2 separate regions of the Homo sapiens genome follow, and region 1 is linked to region 2. The links come from fine-mapping of genetic effects on plasma protein levels. A gene starts in region 2. The other region holds a variant in brackets. All regions are shown on one strand. Distances are from middle to middle.

The links. A credible set is the group of variants that fine-mapping cannot tell apart. PIP is the posterior inclusion probability: the model's chance that the variant is causal. Protein levels are from the aptamer-based SomaScan assay of Sun 2018.
Region 1: its variant is the best candidate, but not a certain one, in a credible set for the plasma level of the PDGFD protein (Sun 2018, PIP 0.66).

What each region holds. Positions count from the first base shown.
Region 1 is chr11:103,998,238-104,002,633 of GRCh38, reverse strand. PDGFD (platelet derived growth factor D) reads left to right here. Exons shown (of 7, transcript NM_025208.5): 2 at 2,379-2,583. Among named protein-coding and RNA genes, the nearest start is that of DDI1, 36 kb to the left of the region's middle. The variant T/G (reference allele first, on the strand shown) is at 1,958.
Region 2 is chr11:104,161,991-104,166,386 of GRCh38, reverse strand. PDGFD (platelet derived growth factor D) reads left to right here and starts at 2,240. Exons shown (of 7, transcript NM_025208.5): 1 at 2,240-2,583. The coding sequence starts at 2,460.

The DNA of each region.
Region 1 (4,396 bases), 160 kb after region 2:
AGTCAACCTAGAAAACAGTGTTCAGACCTGTGTTAGTCATTTTTCACACTGTTATAAAGAACTACCTGAGACTGGGTAATTTATTAAGAACAGAGGTTTAATTGGCTCACAGTTCCATATGGCATAGGAGCCCTTGGGAAACTTACAATCATAGCAGAAGGTGAAGGGGAAGCAAGGCACCTTTTACATGGCAGCAGGAGGCAGGGGTTGCAGGGGACCGCCACACTTTTAAGCCATCAGATTTCATGAGAACTCACTCATTATCACGAGAACAGCATGGGGGAACCACCCCATGATCTAGTCATCTCCCACCAGGTCCCTCCCCTGACATGTGAGGATTACAATTAGAGATGAGATTTGGGTGGGGACACAGAGCCAAACCATATCAAGACCCATTGCCTAAAAGCCCCTTATGACAAAATGAGCAGACACCAGTTTTCGCAGCTGATCTTTAAGCATAAGATCAAGGGAAGGGAAAAGACTCAACGAGCAGAAATGATTTTCGTCTCCTAGGAAGTTGTCTGCTTGCTGTCCTTGTTGGAAGTGCTGCCATGACTGCAGGCCACTGCCTTCATCTGGAGGCAGGGAGTGGGGACATCCCTCAACTACCCGTTGCTTTTCCTACGACTCTGTCTCCCACACAAAGTCTAGCTGAACAAGCTGCAACACATTAACATTAAATGAGTCCAAAAAAAGTTTAAATTCCCATATGCAAAATCACTTGCAAAAGAGACTTTTGTACTTCACATGCCAATTCTTATCCTCTTTGTCTTATTTTTGGAAGCTCTAACAGCCACCCTCAGAAACCCTACCTTACAGTGGTTTCCACCAGCAAGCATAGCTTCCCTGACCAGGCTCACTGAATTATAGTCCTCAAAGTAAACTCTCTGCAGGATAACATAAATAGACTGTGGCTGGAGGTCTGTTTATGGTGGGGCCTAAAAAGCCAAAATCCAAAATGCAATGAACTCTGAATATTGAGAGAGATGAAAAGGGGATCCACTGTATGATGCAATTCTGATGAAAACTACCGGGAGTTAGGCCAAATTCCACAGGTTAAAATTACAAGCACCACAATATGGTACTCACTTCAGACATCAGCTGCAAGTTTGGGGGACCCCAGCTCACTTGCACTTCTGACCAATTGGTTATAAATTTGGGAGTCCCTATAAACCCCCAGGTTTGATATTTGCTAGAACAACTCACAGAAATCAGAAAAGCACTGTACTTAAAATTAAAGTCCTCCTATAAAGGATATAAATTAGGACCAGCTAAATAAAGAAGCACATAGGGTAAGGTCTGAGAGGGTCTCAAGCATGAAGCTTCTGTGTCCTCGGGACACATCAGCCTGCTAGTACATCAATGTGTATCCCCACCTGGGAAACTCACCCAAGTCTTGGTGTCTAGAGTTTTCACTGGAGTTTCATTATGCAGTCATGATTGATGGAATCATTATCAACATGAGTGGACTCAATCTTCAATCCGTCTTTCATCCCCAGAGGTTGGGAGAGAGATCAGGTTGAATGTCATAATGGCTCCAAACCCTAACCCTTAATCACATGGTTGGTCTATCTGGCATGGCCGACCCCCATCCTAAAGTTATCTGTGGGCCCACAGTGAGTCACTTCATTAGCATAAATTCAGACGTGGTCCCGGGGGCCATATCATGAATAACAAAAATATTTCTATGACGTGAGAAATTCCAAGGGTTTGGAAACTCTCTTCCAAGAACCCAGTACAAAAACCAGATAAATTCTTTTTATCTGGCTAACAGCATAGAGAAAATACAGTAAGAATTGGACCTATTTTAACTCATAGAAAACCCAAGACACAAAATTATGATTTTTCGTGGTGGAAGGATGGATGAAATTATTTGCTGATTCTAATCCATACTAAATGAACTGAAGTTCTGAGATTGTTGTTAGTCTTTGCTTGTCAAGAATGATATTAAGAGAAC[T/G]CCCAAAGTACAAAGTTAGACAGACATCAAGGGTGGATTTGTGAAGAATTTAGGGAGGTGGGGGATACTAGAAGAAAGATGTGTTGTTTGTTTAATAGAAGGCAGAAGGTTACCCATCGGAGAATATCAATTGAATACAAAATAAAGGGTCATTAAACATCACTAGAGTCTTTTCTTTTGTTTTTCACTCATTCATTCACTCAGCAGTCTTTATTGAGTATCTCAGATGCTAGTCACTGGACATAGATTGCTACGCCATCAGTGTGAGAAAAAAAGTTTGTTTATTTGCATTTAGACTTAATGTTTTTAGGCAAAATAAAGAAGTGTTTTGAAGTATGATGTGTTGTAAACTGTTCTCTTTTTTTGACTTTCCTGTAATTGGAGCAACATACTAATTTCTACAAGTTGTGACTACTAACAGAGAGCAATCACCTCACAGACTTGTACCGAAGAGATGAGACCATCCAGGTGAAAGGAAACGGCTACGTGCAGAGTCCTAGATTCCCGAACAGCTACCCCAGGAACCTGCTCCTGACATGGCGGCTTCACTCTCAGGAGAATACACGGATACAGCTAGTGTTTGACAATCAGTTTGGATTAGAGGAAGCAGAAAATGATATCTGTAGGTAAGTTGGGAAAAAAATTTTTACGGTACTATTTCAAGGTGAAAAAAGAAAAAGATGAATTTAAAGCATCGTATCAAACATTCCTTTTGAGCCTTTTAAATGGACCCAACATGTGTCGCTTCTTTTTCAAAAAGCCTAAAGACCCTAACAGACAAGATAGCGTAGACTGCTGAGGCAGAGAGCCGAATAACCTGGCAGTACTCACAGAAACTCACTTGTGCAACTGTCAGGACTGTGTGACCTCCAAAGAAGGGTGAAATCTGGAGGTCCTCTCCTTTTCCAGGCACAGAGCAGCATTTATGCACAGGTATCCAGCATCCCAGGTTACGGGCAGCTGCATCATGTGTGGTCAAAGCCTGCCATGGGCTTAGGGAGCATAAACCCCTGCCCGGCTCCCGCTGACCCAGGCCTTCCTACCCATAATGAATTACGCCAGCACTGGGAGATGATGGTTGGGGAAGCTATCAGGGCCTGACCCCGAATTCATAGTGTTAAGGCCTCAGATACGGGTGGGAAGGAAGAGAAAGCTCACCCCAGATTCCCTGTGCTCCTCAGAAGGGTCTGTTTCTTGCAGTTTCTGGGTCACAAGTAGAAGATGAAAGCTGTGTCTGATAATCTTCTCTCTTCTTAGCATATTTATCAAAGAAAGCCTGGACTGTTGTTCTTTGAATGTCCGCTCACAGCATTTTACTCGCTTAATTAGCATGTATAAGACTTGAGGAAGATTTTTTTTTTCTTTTTTGTACTTTACTGCACACACTTGTTCTGCATTGCCAATGAACTACTGAACTGCTAAATCCTTTCAGCGGGTTTATTTTCCTTTGAATAATAAAAAGAGGGGCCTCAAATTTGGTTGTCCTCTGTTGCATGTTTATTATGCTGACAGCTTTTATTATGTTGCTATTTTGCTGAGAATAACAGCACTGACTATTACTTTCTAGGACCATAGAGGGTAATGTATGCCAGAAAGCAGAGATGAATACATTAAGGAAGAGCCAGTTAATATTTACAAAGAGAATAAACTAATGCTGATCTTGCGTCTTTTCCATCTCAAAAAAAAAGAACTAATATTCTGTGCCTAAAAAATCATGGGAAAAAGACGCTATTAAAAGATTATTAAAGGTGATGATGTGGAGGGTACCATGATCTGTTTCTGCCCATAGAACACTTCCAATACCAAATCTGTGAGGTGAGGGTTTTTTCCCACAGCAGTTAATCCTCCAACACCAGCTTGTTTTGTCCTATTCAATTCAATTCAGACACTACCTGGAATCAGTGTCAGATCCCACAAGTTAAGGCTCAGTCCCACAAGACTGCCTCCATGTTCTATGTCAGTTGCAGCTTCCAAGCCTCTCCTACTTCTGATCAACCAGCTGTAAATAGGGGTTCCATAACCCTCTTCTTGGGTTGAATAATTTGCCAGAACAGCTCACAAAACTCAAGGAAACAGTTTCCTTGCTATTACCAGTTTATTATAGAGGATGCAACTGAGGAACAGCCAAGTGAAAGAGATACATAGGCAAGATGTATGGAAAGAGTGCTTTCTCTGGGTTTGCAACCTTCGAAACACCTGGATGTATTCACCAGCCTAGAAGAGTATTGATGGAAGTCTCATTGTGAAGGCACGATTAATTAAATCATTGGTGATTGAACTCCATCTCCAGGCCCTCTCCCTCCCCAGAGGTCTAGGGGTGGAGCCAAAATTTACAACTCTCTAATCATGTCTTGTTCTTTCTGGTGATGAGCCTCCATTCTGAAGCTACCTCGGGGCCTCCCAACAGGTACTTCCAAAAGGCAATGAATTTATTCATTA
Region 2 (4,396 bases):
GATACATGTCATAATTACATAATTATAAGTCATTTGCAAATTTTCTCCGTTTTTCTATAGTCTCATATCAGAAGCTAAGTATGAAATTGAATGAGCATTTCCAACCACTTCTAAAAAACGATATCACATATTTCAATTAGTCCCTACTCCTATCCCATCTATCTCTACCCCTTTTCACTTATTAACACAGTTACATACTTACTTGTTTATGTTCCCTTTCCTCTATTATAATGTAAACTCAAAGAGATTAGGAACTTTATTTCTTGTTCACAATTTAATCCCCAAGATTTTTAGACCAGGGCATAACACAAGGGGAAAAACTAATGCTTAATTAATACCTGTTGAATGAATAAATGATCCTTAGTGTCTCTCCCAGGGTTTCACTATATCCTGAAACAATGTAATTAGATCTTTTTTTCCAGGGGCTTTCAAACTTTTTTGATCATGCCCCAAAGAAATAACTATTATATTGTAGTGTTCGTGTATCTGAAACAAAATATTCATAAAACAATATTATTATCTCCAATGAACCCTGATAATTAAATTTCTAAACTATTGTATTCCAATCCATTTATTTAAACAATTATTCTGGTATTGAAGTTGATTTCATGGCCCACAAACCTAAATTTTGTAAAATACCATTTTAAGCCAAAAAGCCAATAGAGATGAAACATGTTGATCTTTGACTATGTTGAAGGGACACATGAACCCTCGTCCTTGTTGGATGGTATAATAACTTGACAAGGCTACCTTTTCCAGAACTTCCTGCCCTTCTCAGCCACTTAAAGTTCCCTATGTATGGATATCACTTACCATATGCCAGACTTTCAGGAGCTGGAAGGCCTGAAAAAGACTGAAAATTTTCTCTTCTAGATCTCATCAGCGGAAAATTGAGAAATCATATAAATTTGGATTTGGATTCAGCTACAAACAAAACAATATGCTAAACATTTTTTCACATCATTCTCACCACAACCATACAAATTAACAATTGCTACTCTTGCAAATAAATAAACTGAGTTTCGAAAGATCAGATGATTTGCTCAAGGGGACAAAGCCAGTGAGCAGCGAGTCTGGACTCATTCCTTTTCCAAATACAGTCCCCTCCCATGGGCAGACAGACACACGATGTAAACCAGAGGCAGCCCCTTTCAACTGCTGAGCTTCCAGACGCAGAGTAGGGAGAATCCCAAAAGCCTCAACGACCCATGCCTCTTCCTATGGACTGTGAAGGCAAGTGAGCACAGTGTTCTGCAACTTCTTCCCCTTGCTCAGTCTGTTCCTGCTCAACCCCACTCTGTCCTGTTGCCCTTTCCTGTGGAAGGGCTGGAGCTAGTGCATATAAAAACGCTCGTGAAGACTTCTTGCCCTTATTGTACACTGCACCACATGGCCCATCACGTCTACAGCCCTGTGTGATAGGTGGTTCATCTTGCTGCACCCTAGAAAAGGCATTTTGGTGTCCAATACTCTCTGGTACCAGGATGCCCTGACTCATCCTGGAGTTCGCGAAAAGTGAAAGCTACGCCATCCCTCCATCAGTCTCGACCTTTTCTCGGGCATTTTTGATAGATGGAGGGACTCAAGAGTAGCTTTCTCTGGGTGATATACTTTTATTTTTATTTTATTCCCTGAAAAGGTACCCTTGACTCACCCAAAGGTCACACTGATGGGAGCTCAAAGAAAAGCTCGGAATTAAGCTCCTTTGTGATTGTATTTTTTCACTATAAACAGTGAAATTTTAACTAAGTAGAGTCTCATTTTGGTTATTGTAAAATAAACACTCCCAACTCCAGTCCCTGTCCCCACATCCCACCACCATCAAGGCGGAGAGCTGTGGCTTGTGGGTGGATGTGCCAGTCACCTCTGAAGAAGTGCTGGGATTCTACCCTCTCCCACTTCCTCCTGGCGAGTTTGTTTCCTGAGCCCTTACAGGTCCAACCAGGAGGGTAAAGCCCAGGGCGGTGGGAAGAGTCCCGGCCGGCGATTAAACTGGGCATGCTCAGTGGCAGAGCAGGTTTAGGCCCGGCCTGGGAAACTGGGGAGCTGAGGTGCTCGCGCCGCCGCTCTGAGCCCGAGTGCGCGCCTCTCAGGGGCCGCGGCCGGGGCTGGAGAACGCTGCTGCTCCGCTCGCCTGCCCCGCTAGATTCGGCGCTGCCCGCCCCCTGCAGCCTGTGCTGCAGCTGCCGGCCACCGGAGGGGGCGAACAAACAAACGTCAACCTGTTGTTTGTCCCGTCACCATTTATCAGCTCAGCACCACAAGGAAGTGCGGCACCCACACGCGCTCGGAAAGTTCAGCATGCAGGAAGTTTGGGGAGAGCTCGGCGATTAGCACAGCGACCCGGGCCAGCGCAGGGCGAGCGCAGGCGGCGAGAGCGCAGGGCGGCGCGGCGTCGGTCCCGGGAGCAGAACCCGGCTTTTTCTTGGAGCGACGCTGTCTCTAGTCGCTGATCCCAAATGCACCGGCTCATCTTTGTCTACACTCTAATCTGCGCAAACTTTTGCAGCTGTCGGGACACTTCTGCAACCCCGCAGAGCGCATCCATCAAAGCTTTGCGCAACGCCAACCTCAGGCGAGATGGTAAGAGACTCATTTTATTTTTTAACTGAAAAAAAAATCATGTTTGCTATTGTTATTGTTCTTTCTATGTTTTTCCCCTTTCTTTTTGAATCTTGAATGTGAACTCGGGCTGAATGCATTGTTTGGGGAGGGAGGTCTCCTGCCTGTATCCAGTCCTGAGAGAGCTCCATTTCCGGAATGGGACTGAGAGGTGTGGGACGCGTGCTGATGGGGATAGGATAAGCCAGGTGGCTCACCTTGCTGCACCCTAGAGAAGTCATTTTGGTGTCCAAGCCTCTGGTACCAGGATGCGGTGCCTCATCCCGGAGTTGGCGAAAGTTGCAAGCTGCGCCGCCCCTTGGTCAGACTCAACCTTTCTTAGGCAATTTTGATAGGTGGAAGGAGTCAAGAGTAGCTTTCCCTGGGTGATAGACGTTTATTTAAATTTTATTTATTTATTTATTTATTTTTACGAGTGAGAGGAGAAATCGTGCGTTTCAATCTAGCAGTTATATCTGGAACAGTGACAATTTACTATTTATTTTCGGGAAATGGCAGTGTGCAGCCTATTGCCCTTTAGGTCCCCTAAGTGACTTTCCTATTGAAGTTCACCCTGACTCAGAAGCTCAGAGTGTAGGAGACCAAGGCTTCTGGGGTTTCATCAGTACCACAGGGGCACCAGGCTTCTGCTGCTAGTTTCCTTGCAGAAGCGGCTTCCAATTATCTACAAGGAGCACAGCTCCTGAAACAGCTGTCCTAAGCAAGGTCCCAAGCCAGCTTGTTTGTTTTCCTTTACTCTAGAGGACACCTGGGTCACTGGTTCCAGAGACCCTAAGCTGAGTTTATTTACTTTCTGGGGCCTCCACCTAAAACTGTAGCTGATGTTCCCAGCAAATTTTAGCTGTTCTGCCATGTACCTGAACTGACCCATAGGCTTTTGGATCTTGTTTTTTCCTACATCAGTATCTTTCTCTCCTGCTTGCTTAAAGTACTAACACATCTCCCAAGGAGACCATCAAGCAATTGTTGATGGCTTCACAGTTTCAGCTGACAGTATTTGACTGTCTTGGTAAATTCCTATTAGCCATCTTATCAGTTTCTTTCTTGGTATGTCCTTAATTTGGAATTTACTAAATGACTTTTGGACTTTGCAGGGAAACCAAAATTTCATTATGTTATCTGATGATGAGTAGACTATGGATATCAGTGTACTCGTCACCTGAAGTGGTGTAGATTTGTAGCAGGGGAAGCCACAGAGTCATCTTACTTTTTCATAGCGTTTTTATGTAAAAGATTCCAGCCGTGCATTTTTGGTAACTCTCTGTCTTAGTTAAAAGCACGTAATTTATTTATTTATTTATTTTTTTACTACACTTAAGGATTAGGCCCAACACCAAACTGTGTGGTTTTTTGTCTTTACTCTTTAATGTTTCCACTAGGGACAGATCTTGTAGGTTTGTTATTAGTTGCACTTTATATGTCCTTTTAGCTACATAGAGTAAAATTCCACTTGTAATTTGCATGACTTCATAGCCATAATTTTGTAATCCTCACCCTCCCAAGTATCAGTTACAAGAAGTCAAGGACAGAAAATGAAAAGCATGTAACCATTGCCCATTAACCCAAGATTCTGACTAAAACCAAGTTATGTAGCTCAGCAGGTTTTTTTTTTTTTGAAAGAGAATAATCTCATTTTAGTTTCCATTGTTAAAACTCTATACATCTCCATACATCTGTTCAGTCTATATGGGAAATGCTATGTTTCATGAAAGCTTTAAAAACTACCCTGGATTTCTCATTTCTTCATATTTCAGTTAAAACTGTTTTGCAGTTA